Homo sapiens: one gene and its partners. The gene in region 2 interacts genetically with the main gene of each other region. Each region holds a gene or a part of one and is shown on either strand. Other genes may lie near its edges. The genes, in order: RPS5, ATG7 and SPRED2.

The links.
Region 1: of ATG7 (region 2) and RPS5, changing one suppresses a phenotype caused by changing the other (phenotypic suppression), as found in Homo sapiens cells (one large-scale study listed by BioGRID).
Region 3: of ATG7 (region 2) and SPRED2, changing one suppresses a phenotype caused by changing the other (phenotypic suppression), as found in Homo sapiens cells (one large-scale study listed by BioGRID).

What each region holds. Positions count from the first base shown.
Region 1 is NC_000019.10:58,385,692-58,389,443, reverse strand, and holds the start of RPS5 (small ribosomal subunit protein uS7), read right to left. Parts: upstream 2,176-3,752; 5' UTR 2,105-2,175; intron 1,308-2,104; 5' UTR 1,307-1,307; coding exon 1,199-1,306; intron 1-1,198. UniProt on the Homo sapiens protein: Component of the small ribosomal subunit. The ribosome is a large ribonucleoprotein complex responsible for the synthesis of proteins in the cell. Part of the small subunit (SSU) processome, first precursor of the small eukaryotic ribosomal subunit.
Region 2 is NC_000003.12:11,310,357-11,314,008, reverse strand, and holds part of ATG7 (ubiquitin-like modifier-activating enzyme ATG7), read right to left. Parts: intron 706-3,652; coding exon 589-705; intron 1-588. UniProt on the Homo sapiens protein: E1-like activating enzyme involved in the 2 ubiquitin-like systems required for cytoplasm to vacuole transport (Cvt) and autophagy.
Region 3 is NC_000002.12:65,422,469-65,426,120, forward strand, and holds part of SPRED2 (sprouty-related, EVH1 domain-containing protein 2), read right to left. Parts: intron 1-3,652. UniProt on the Homo sapiens protein: Negatively regulates Ras signaling pathways and downstream activation of MAP kinases. Recruits and translocates NF1 to the cell membrane, thereby enabling NF1-dependent hydrolysis of active GTP-bound Ras to inactive GDP-bound Ras.

The DNA of each region.
Region 1 (3,752 bases), on a different chromosome or scaffold from region 2:
CAAAAGGTAGCAGGTTTGGTGGCATGCATCTTTGGTCCCAGCTAGTTGGAGTCTAAGACAGGAAGATCCCCTGAGCCCAGGTGTATTGAGGCTGCAGTGAACTGTGATCACACCACTGCACTCCAGCCTGGGTGACAGAGAGTGATCTTATCTCAAAGATAAAACTTTAATGATTAAAAAAAAAGAGGAGGAAAGTGAATAAAGTGCAACCCAAGTTATATTCATCTTTATATCAATGCAGTCACAAAATATAATTTCAAACACTTTCTTTTAATGGAGGAAGGGCTCACAAAAGCTAAAGTTCTTAAGGCCCACAAAATTCTTAATGATGCCTTCATGGGGAGGGGAAAAAAAGGGTATGTGTAAAACCGTACGGAGTAGGAACAAAGTAGGACAACTCACACTTCCCAATTGCAAAACTTAATACAAAGCAAGAAAGTGTGGTACTGGCATAGAGACAGACATATAGACCAGTGGAATATAACTGAAAGTCTGTAATGAAACCCATACATCTGGGCCGGGCGCGGTGGCTCACGCCTGTAATCCCAGCACTTTGGGAGGCCGAGACGGGCGGATCACGAGGTCAGGAGATCGAGACCATCCTGGCTAACTCGGTGAAACCCTGTCTCTACTAAAAATAAAAAAAAAAAAATCAGCCAGGTGCAGTGGCGGGCACCTGTAGTCCCAGCTACTCAGGAGGCTGAGGCAGGAGAATGGTGTGAACCCGGTAGGCAGATCGCGTCACTGCACTCCAGCCCAGGGAACAGAGTGAGACTCCGTCTCAAAAAAAAAAAAAAAAAAAAAAAACTACGGCCAGCTGATTTATGACAAGTGGCCAAGGCCATTCAATTGAGGGAAAAAAAACATCTCTTTAGGAGATGGTACTGGATAACTGGATATTCACATGCAAAAGAATGACACTGGATGTTATGTATTTTACTACAAAAACAGTAACAAAAATACCATATGTGAGATGTGATGCTCCTTCTGGTGAAGGAGTCCTCTCATGACAGAAGTTGTAGTCATCTTTGAACAGGACGTAAGAGCAGATGTGGTAGATGTGGTGGTCAAGGGATCCCTTCTTTACCTGTTATGATCTCTATTCTTGACTTAATGGCACAGCAACAAGTTTGATGTGTGCCTTCCTGGAATAATGTCCGCCCCCAGCCAGGAAGGCCAATCACCAAGTTCCCCTCACCTGCAGGGAAATGTCATTGATCTGCACATCATCGGTGCTCCACTTCCCAAAGAGCTTGATGTCTGGGGTCTCTGCCACCGCTGGTGCTGCTGTCTCCCACTCGGTCATCCTGGGACAGGGTGATGACAGGAAAAAAACGTCAGAGCTCAGCTAGCATGGAGCAAAGGCGCACTCATTCCCAACTCTGAGGCTAGCCGCCATCTAGTGATGAACTGGGGGGTCGCAAAGGACCAAGAAAGGCCGTGAACGTGTTTTCAAGCACTAGAAAAATTACTCAGCTGTCAGCAAGAAGCATCTGTCTTTCACCTAGAACCCCTGGGCCCAAGACTTGGCAGCCACCAGTCAACAGCTGCTGCACTGGGACCAAGGTATAATGGCTCAGCAGATGCCATACGTCCTCACACTGCATGGGCTGTAATTCAAACCACAATCTCGCGATTTACATGGTCTTTGACCCAAGTCAACGTTCCGTCTCGGACTGTTTCTTTGGCCGTGAGGCGGGACCGTTATATGACATCAAGGACCACGGTAGGTACCGTGTGGCACAATCAACCCAAAGGTTTCGATTCTTGACCGACAGTATGAAGGCTCTAGGGGCTGCTATTACGGGGGGAAAGTTACACAGAGCAAAAGAGGGCATCGTGTCCCTAAGAAATGGAAACTTCCTATCTCAGAGTACAACCGCATAGTTCAAACCAAGTTCCCCAAGCCCCGCTATGGGGAAAAGCTAGAAGCGGCGGAGCACCAGAAAGAAGTCAAGAGTAACTCGGCCCGCGCCCGTTTCTTCTACATTTTCTTTTCCAGAGACAGAAATGAGACCTAATGAGAAAAGGCCCAGGCCGCGGGGCACTATCCCCGAAAGACCATGAACCGTCCCTAGGATCCCCGGCCCCGCGGCGGTCTCACCTGAGAACACAGCCTGAGCGTCTCTGTCACTCGGCGTAGACCACGCGCCGCCCTGGTACAGACAGGAAGAGGCCGCGCGCCGCGGGCCAACACTTTTAACTGGGAAGAAAACTTCCGGGTCAGCACGGGTGACGCTTGCGTAAAAGGCCATCGTGTCCCTATAGACCAATCCGGAGGAAGGTTGTAGAGGAACCTTTTGGGCTAGACGGAATGGGTGCAGCCCAAGCGCATGCGCAGTTGCAGAAGCGGCCCTAGAAGCGTGCCTGGCGGATGTCCGCTACCCCGTAGTTGCCCTGTCTTGTGGGCGCCTGCAAAAGCGCAGAGATTTCCGTGAGACCAACGCAGCCATGTCTAATAAAGAAAAAAGTCTGGCCAGCGCTCGCTTCTTTGTTCAGCTGCTGACCTTAAATCCCACCTGCCGCGGGAGTAGCCAGTTCAGTTCCCTCTGACTCCTCGCCGCGGCCACAGCCGCCTCACCGGCACGCGCCTGATGCGGACCTGGGTTAGCGGAGTGAGGCCCAGTGGTCACCGCCGCCCTCCGCAGGTCCAGGTTGCCGTGCGCATGTGCCTGCCACACGCGGCCCCTCCCCCACCGCCCGGCCCAGGAGCACCACGCTCGCGAGCCCCGGATCCCGAGCCTCTGGCTGGGCCTGTTTCCCTGCTCGACCTTTCCTGCCATACCACGCTGGGTTCCCCCACAGCCTCCGCGCCCTTCACCTCTGCTATGCAGTAATCTCGCCCGTGGAAGAGGGGAGACCGCCGGCACGAGGGCCCGGGGTTGCGGCGGCGGGAGCAGCGCGACCCGTCTCTGGGTGGAGCGCGGAGGTAGCCTACAGGCTACGCGCGGTGTCCGGGAGGAGGGGGTCGGCAGGTCGGGGACCCTTCGTGTTTGTCCTTGTGTCCTCCACGGCCGGGGAGCCCGCGCGAGGGGTTGCAGCCCCCTGCCCTCAGGGCTCACGTCACGAGGCCCTCGTGTCTGCAGACGTGGCTCTCAGGGGTGCCTCTTGAACTGGCCGACCTCTCCAAGGGTCAGAAACGTAGGTTTCTGGCCAAAGGTTGAAAGGAGGGATGGAAGATTTAGCCATGAGATGAAGGAGATTATTCCCGCCAGCACACAATCCCCTGCCCCCCAACTTCTGTCCCTTCCCCCAGCTGCCTCTGAACAGGTAGGGCCTCTGAACAGCTCAGCCCTGGCTGGGAGCAGACAGCGAACCCTCTCACAGGGCCTGAACTATTGCGTGGGATTGAGGATGTGGGCCTTCGACCCGGGGTCCTCATCCGTGCGTGGGGTTGGCACGGTAGTGAGTGCCCCAGCTCACTCTACTCACTTGGCCACCCTGGCAGCCAGTGTGGACAGTCTGCCTGCCCATGACCCCTTCATACCCCTCTGCCTGTCCCAGCCTCTTAGATCTAGGCTCATGAGCAGAACTGGGACTTTCCAGAGGTAGCAACTACTTTGACTGTGTCTCTGCCTGCAGCAGGCATAGACATAACCTTTACGAGGCGACTCCAGGACCACCTGGGGCCGCCCTGTCTCTGATGCCCATCTCTGCCTCCAAGGGGTTATCCCTCCAACTCGGGATCCGAAGGGCCCAGCCACCTGACCCAGGTCCCAGGGCTGGGCCTGCCCCCTACTCCCATCCCTGAG
Region 2 (3,652 bases):
AGTGTTTCAAAATATTCCTATAATTCCCCCTTACTGGCTTAGCATTTCACCAAATACCACTGAAAACCTGGAAAATTACTGTGCACTACATCTTCAAAATGACTTTACAGACCAGGCAGGGTGGCTCATGCCTGTAATCCCAGCACTTTGGGAGGCTGAGGTGGACAGATTGCTTGAGCCCAGGTGTTGAAGACCAGCCTGGCCAACATGGCAAAACCCCATATCTATTAAAAGACAAACATTAGCCAGGTGTGATGGGATGCCTGTAGTCCCAGGTGCTCAGGAGGCTGAGATGAGAGGATCACCTGAGCCTGAGAAGTTGAAGCTACAGTGAGCAGTGATCGTGCCACTGCACTCCAGCCTGCGTAATGGGGGTGAGACCCAGTCTCAAAACATATATAAATATATATACAAAAAAATGACTTTACAAACATTTTCTAAATAAGTCTGCTCCTAGTACCACCTTTGGAGGATTTCAGTTACCACGTCTTCATCCAGAGAAGTGCCTGTTTGTCTTTGGAAAGAACTACATAACTACTCTTGCACATTCAACCCAATTTTATGTGCATTTTGGTTATTTGTTGATACCTGTTTTAGTGAAAACCTTTGATCCAAACCCACTGGCCCCTGAATGAGAGGTAAACTCTCTGGAAGACAGAGGGCAGGATAGCAAAACCAATAGTAGAAGTGGTACTTCTTTAGATCCTAGAAAAAAAAGTATAAATAAGTTATTAGAATAGCACCATTAACTTAAGGTGAAATGCATCTATTAATGTAGCTTCTCAAGGCCAATTAAGATAGCAAAGCTATGCAAACAAAGTCTGTCCAGCTTATCAAATATCCTCATCCCCAACAGAACTCATGATCAAATAAAGGACTTTTGTATTCCCAAAATAGTCTCATATACCACCACTAATAATATGATGACAAACATAATATACTTTATTGACCACTTGCTAACAGAAAATGTGCAATATGTAATTGATATTATCATCATCATCCTTTAACCTACAAAACCCCCCTGGGAGGTATTTACTATTATCCCATTTTATAAACAGAAAACTGAATCTTACAAAGGGGTAAAAAACCTAAACAACAACAAAAAAGATGGCAAGGGGCAGAGAAGAGATCAGAACTCTGCTTCCAAAACTTAAGCTTTTTTCCACTGACCATAGATACTTAATGTACTATCTACAGAAGCACAACTTCCAAACAGTTACCATTCTCTTCACAATCAAATAAATTACATGTTATTAAGGAAGCTGTGCTATTCACATATGTATGCATGCCTGAAATAATACAATATTGCTTTTGTAAATGGCTTAGTGGATTTAAGTCAACAACTATCAAGCCCTTGCTATGTACAAGGCAAAACATAAGACACTGACAATAAGATGAATAAACCCCAGTCCCAGACACCAGGCAGCTCACTTTGTGGACAGAGCAGAGATAAAGCGAGTGCATGATTAGAGCCATGGAGAGGCTCTAAGTAGTAAGCTGGATGGGTGAATAGAAGAGGTTACATCTTCACGGGTATATCTGACCGATCCCCCACCAGGGTAGGAGATCCAGGGGAAAGGATTTGTGAGGCTGTCTTTGACACTGTTCCCACTCACGCTAATGGCTCTTGCTTCAGAATTCTTACAGCTTTTGGGGCCTTAATTAAATTCATGGTAGCATTCCAGACATATGTGGGTATTTGGCAGCTTGCCTACAAGCCTGTGACCACTGAATATGAATGCAGTTTATGTAGCTAATTAATATTTCTTCTTGAATCTTGCTAAGAATTAAAATTGGATGGTTGTTAGATGACTTTTTATTGAGATATAATTTACGTTCCATAAAATTCACCATGTTAAAAAGTATACAATTTAGTGGTTTCTTTTTAGTATAGTGATATGGTTGTACCATCATCACTATTAATTCCAGAATATTTTCATCACTCCAAAAAGAAATCTCATACATATTAGCAGAGACTCCCCATTCCCCCTCTTCTCATCCCCTGGCAACCACTAATCTATTTTCTGTCTCTGTGGATTTTCCTAGTCTGGACTTTTCATATAAATGAAATCATACTAGATGAGTTTTAAAATGTAAATGTATATGTAATCATGTGTACAGATGAGAAAGTCTAATAATTGTAATCTCTGCGGTCTCTAATTCTGCTATTCATTGATCAACTAAGAAAAAATTCCCTCTTCACAATGGCAAAATGAACTGCAAAGCTGAAATTAATGAACTGTCTAGTCCTATGAGTCCTAAAAAACAGCAGAAGGAAAGCAAAAACACCTCCAGAGATTATTTTCTCTTCTTTGTACTTAAATGATTTGTCATAACCGATATTTAGTAAAAGGTTAAACAATTCAAGATGAAGAAACTCACAAAATCTTTTTTTTTTTTTTTTTGGAGACAGTCTTGCTCTGTCACACAGGCTGGAGTGCAACGGCACGACGATCTCAGCTCACTGCAACCTCCACCTCCCAGGTTCAAGCAATTCTTCTGCCTCAGCCTCCCGAGTAGTTGGGACTACAGGCTGCCATGCACAGCTAATTTTTTTTTTTAATTTTAGTAGATACGGGGTTTAACTATGTTGCCCAAGCTGGTCTCAAACTCCTGAGCTCAGGCAATCCGCCTACCTCGGCCTCCCAAATCGCTAGAATTACAGGCATGAACCACTGCACCCGGCCGGACCTCACGAATTCTAAGAAACTTTATCAGGTCATTTTCAAAAGTCAAAAAGCTTGCATTTCTTAGGATTCTTTTCAGGATAGAAATGACCTCCATTAAATTAAACATAAAGTCCTTGGTGTCTGAAGATTTTAAAAAGTAGATACTTACAATTTTTTTTAAGTCAGGCTAAGAATGCTCAGTAAACAAGGCAGCAAGACCAACACACATACTGACTCTAGGCAAACCTTAAAACTTTAAGTAAGAGCTAATGTTATTTTTCTCATTAAATGCAAACTGTCAGCATGTTCTACTATGAGAATTCTTGGTACAGAAAGCGTACTGACGTTCAAGTAACTAGAAATCTTTAACTAGCAATGCTTACAATTTATCCCAGTAAAGAGCCTACAGGCTGCATGCGGTGGCTCATGCCTGTAATCCCAGCACTTTGGGAGGCCGAGGCGGGCGGATCACGAGGTCAGGAGATCAAGACCATCCTGGCTAACACGGTGAAACCCCCTCTCTACTAAAAATACAAAAAATTAGCCGGGTGTGGTGGTGGGTGCCTGTAGTCCCGGCTACTCAGGAGGCTGAGGCAGGAGAATGGCATGAACCTGGGAGGCAGAGCTTGCAGTGAGCCGACATCGCACCATTGCACTCCAGCCTGGGTGACAGAGCGAGACTCCGTCTCAAAAAAAAAAAAAAAACTACAGAATTACCCAAACGTATAGACAGATTATTAATGCCAAACTGAGCCAAGTAATCAGACAAAAAATTTAAACATTTTTCTCTCTCCTCCACTATTACATAGAAAGCATTATAACTTGTTAGAAAATGTGTTCCTTGTAGATAGCCACCCACTGGCCTTGTTTGATTGCTATCATACCCTCCTTTGCCTTGGGCAATAAATCAGAGGCCTCCCCTGCATCTAGGAATCTAGGAGGAACGGTGGGAGGTCGGGGAAGGAAAACTTGCCAAAAAAAGA
Region 3 (3,652 bases), on a different chromosome or scaffold from region 2:
TATTGTATGGCAGGCTAGGTGCTCTATATTTGCAGTAAGTGAATGGCACATGGTAGGCATTCAATGGCTAGTGGCTCCCTCTCCTCTGGCTGTACTTCCACTCATTTATTTTATCCAATACAATAATTTACACATAATTTTGCAACTGGGGCCTAAGTACATTCTAAATTCAAGTTATTCCGATTCACAGTATATCACACTCCAAATCAACACCTATAATCTAGTATCCCCAATTTTCCTTAGTACAAAAGACATCTTAGAATGGACGGTAAGGTCTTCAAAGGTTTTTTGTTGTTGTTTTTTATTTTAACAAACAGCAGAGTACTGTTCTGAAGTGTGCTCACACACAGATCAATGAGAAGGCAACCAATTATTAGGCCTTCAGGGCCAGAGGTGAGCTGTTGAGCCCAGGCACATCATTCTAGCAAGGCAGATTTGCTTTGCGAGTCTGAGCCTGAGAAAAAAATCAAACTTGACTTAACCTTTAAGCAAAAGGGAGAAATGTAATAACTATATTAAGACTATAGTCACACTTACGCTGCTTTAAAAGATCTATAAAAATGAGTAAAATTACTGGGATGTTGATAAATTAAACCTCTAGTCTAGCACTATGTCTGTATTCCCACTCCATCGTCCACTTTATTCCTTGGCTGGAAAAATAAAATGAAATGCCAAACATGGCATTCAAGTAGACAAAACATGTCATAAGCCAAGTGACTCCTAAGAGGATGGTCAGTCCCACCCATCCACACCAAGCCTACTGACTTTTGTTTTAGAGAGAATTTGAATGCTGCTGGTAATAAGGTATCTAGACCACATATCAGGAATGGCGTAGGGATGGCAGGGGAGCCAAGGATGCTATTACAGGTAGGTACTCTTACCCTAAGAGAACAGACAAGCTATAAAACTCAGAATCTCAAAAAGCACAGCCAACTGGGATCACTGAGTAAAGGGGCCAATGGTCAGCTGGGCATTATTGATTATCACAGTACAAAAACTACCAGGACACCATTAGAAAGCCAAAAGAAACAGTCAGTCTTAGAACATGACTTCTAAATCCTAATTATCCTCCCACAAGCTCCCTGAGGAGCCTTGAGCAAGTCATTTCAGCTCTCTAAGGTACAAAGTGAAAATCTTGTTTCCTGCCTTGTAAAGTTCATGGATCTCCTCTGCCTTGTAAATTCTGAAAAGAAAGAACACCTTATTACATGATGGGGGACAGACCTGGGGTAGATGGATGCTACTGAATCTCAATTTCTCAGGTGCTGTGCTAAAATGTTTTACCAAGGCTACCTCATTTATGCTTTTTTTTTTTTTTCTTTGAGATGGAGTTCTGCTCTTGTTGACCAGGCTGGAGTGCAATGGTGCAATCTCTGCTTAGCACGATCTCTGCTTGGCATAACCTCCGCCTCCCAGGTTCAAGCGATTCTCCTGCCCCAGCCTCCCGAGTAGCTGGGATTACAGGCATGTGCTAGCATGCTCAACTAATTTTGTATATTTAGTAGAGATGGGGTTTCTCCATCTTGGTTGGGCTGGTCTCGAACTCCTGACCTCAGGTGGTCGGCCCACCTCGGACTCCCAAAGTGATGGGATTACAGGCATGAACCACCATGCCTGGTCCATTTCTACTTTTTAACAGCCTATTAGGTATACAGCAGAATGAACCTCATTTACATTAATCCAGGGCTGGTGGCTTGGGATACTTAGCAGGGTCCCTTAGTGGCAGGGGAAGAGGTACGGTCTCACTCCAAAGTCCATGATTCTTCCACTACCATCATGGCAGCCTCTCCTTTAGTAGTTTTGAAAAAGCAACTCAAAGTCTTTTTTGGATATAGGTATCCAAAAAAGATAATTGTTAAATTGTGAAAAATTGTTAAATTTTTATACACGGTACAATTATTTTTTCAATTAATGAATAGTTACTTCAACCAATTGATAACTGTTTACAGAAAGCCTACTATGTGCTCAGTGTTCTGCCAGGCCATGGGTATGAGGGTTAATAAATTATTCTCAAAGGGCATGGTGGTGTACACCTGTGGTCGCAGCTACTTGGGAGGCTGAGATGGGAGCACTGCTTGAGCCCAGGAGTTCAAGGCTCCAGTAAGCCATGATTGCACCCCTGCACTCCAGCCTGGGCAACAGAGCAAGACCCCATCTCTAAAAAAAAAGTAATAAAAATAAAAGATAAAGCTATTCCCATGCCAGGTGCAGGTGGCTCATGCCTATAATCCCAGCACTCTGGAAGGTCGAGACAGGAGGACTGCTTAAGGCTAGGAGCTGAAGGCCATCCTGGGCAACGTTAAGAAGACCTCACCTCTACTAAAAATTTAAAAATTAGCCAGGTGTGGTGGCGCACACCTACAATCCCAGCTACTCAGGAGGCCAAGGCAGAAGGATCACTTGGAATACTCCAGCCTGGACAACAGATCAAGAGTCTGTTTCAAAAACAAACAAACAAACAAACAAACCTATTCCCACACCTAGAAAGACAGATGGGCCAAGCTTCTCTGTGCATTCTCAGTTAGTATGGATGCAAATACAAAATAAACAGTGCGTATCTGAAAAGTCAGTACTGGAGGCCAGAGCCAAAGCAAAGCAGTAAGAAAAAGAAACAAGAGGAATAAATAATGAAAATGAAAAGACAAAGATGTCATTACCAGATGAACAAATGAAAGTCAATTAAAAACTTAACTGATAATTAAGTTTTAAGCATTTATAAATGGACCACAGGAAATATATCAAAGAATAAAAACAACCAGATCTGAAAAATCGTTATTTCAGGACACAGAGGAGCCAAAACCATACATTTTAGAAGCTCCCAATATTTGTTCTAATCTCTTCAATCACAAGTGTTAAATGCTAAGGGTGAAGTCAAAATCTGTTTCTTTACCTTTACCCTCTAAGTGCAAGTAAACACAGAAAGTTTGTTTTTAAATAAATATTCAACTACCCTTTGAGAGTAGCAGGAAGAACATAAGCACAATTTGATAATACGTGTGCAATATGCCACATGTGAACATAATGTTGATAAAGGTTACATGAGAAAGGGAAATGGGTAGTTATGAAACAATTGTTACTTAATTTAGCAAACTCCCATGATCCTGGCCTGACTTTCTTTCCATGACATGGGACATATGTCAAGATGTAACAATCCTTCATGTCTATCCAGGGAAAGCATATAAAAAATATATTTTGTTCCACGGGGCACTGGAGCATCAATACAAAATATTTCTTCTACTTCAAAGTCACTAAGAGCCCTAGAAAATGCCTTAAAAGCACCATCACAATGTTCTAGATTTAAATAGTAATTTTTAAATATTTCTAAGAATAAGTTATCAAGTTTATTGAGATGACGGGGTCTTTTTAAAAAACTCGGCCTAATTTACCTTAGTAAAAACAAGCCCAAACAAATAATCACATACACCAAAACTTTCTGGTCTGCCTCTATTATCACTTGTTCAATTTCTGAAAATTTTGCTGTTAGACTGTATTTGTGTTCAGCCGGCAATACAAGAATGATGCCAATATTGGAGTTCATCAGCACAGCTGTATCCACCCTCAAGTGTTAAGACTCCAGCAGAACCCTGCAGCTATTGAAAATTGTTAATACTGTGATTTCTGCAGAGATTCTCCTACAGAGGCATAGAAACAG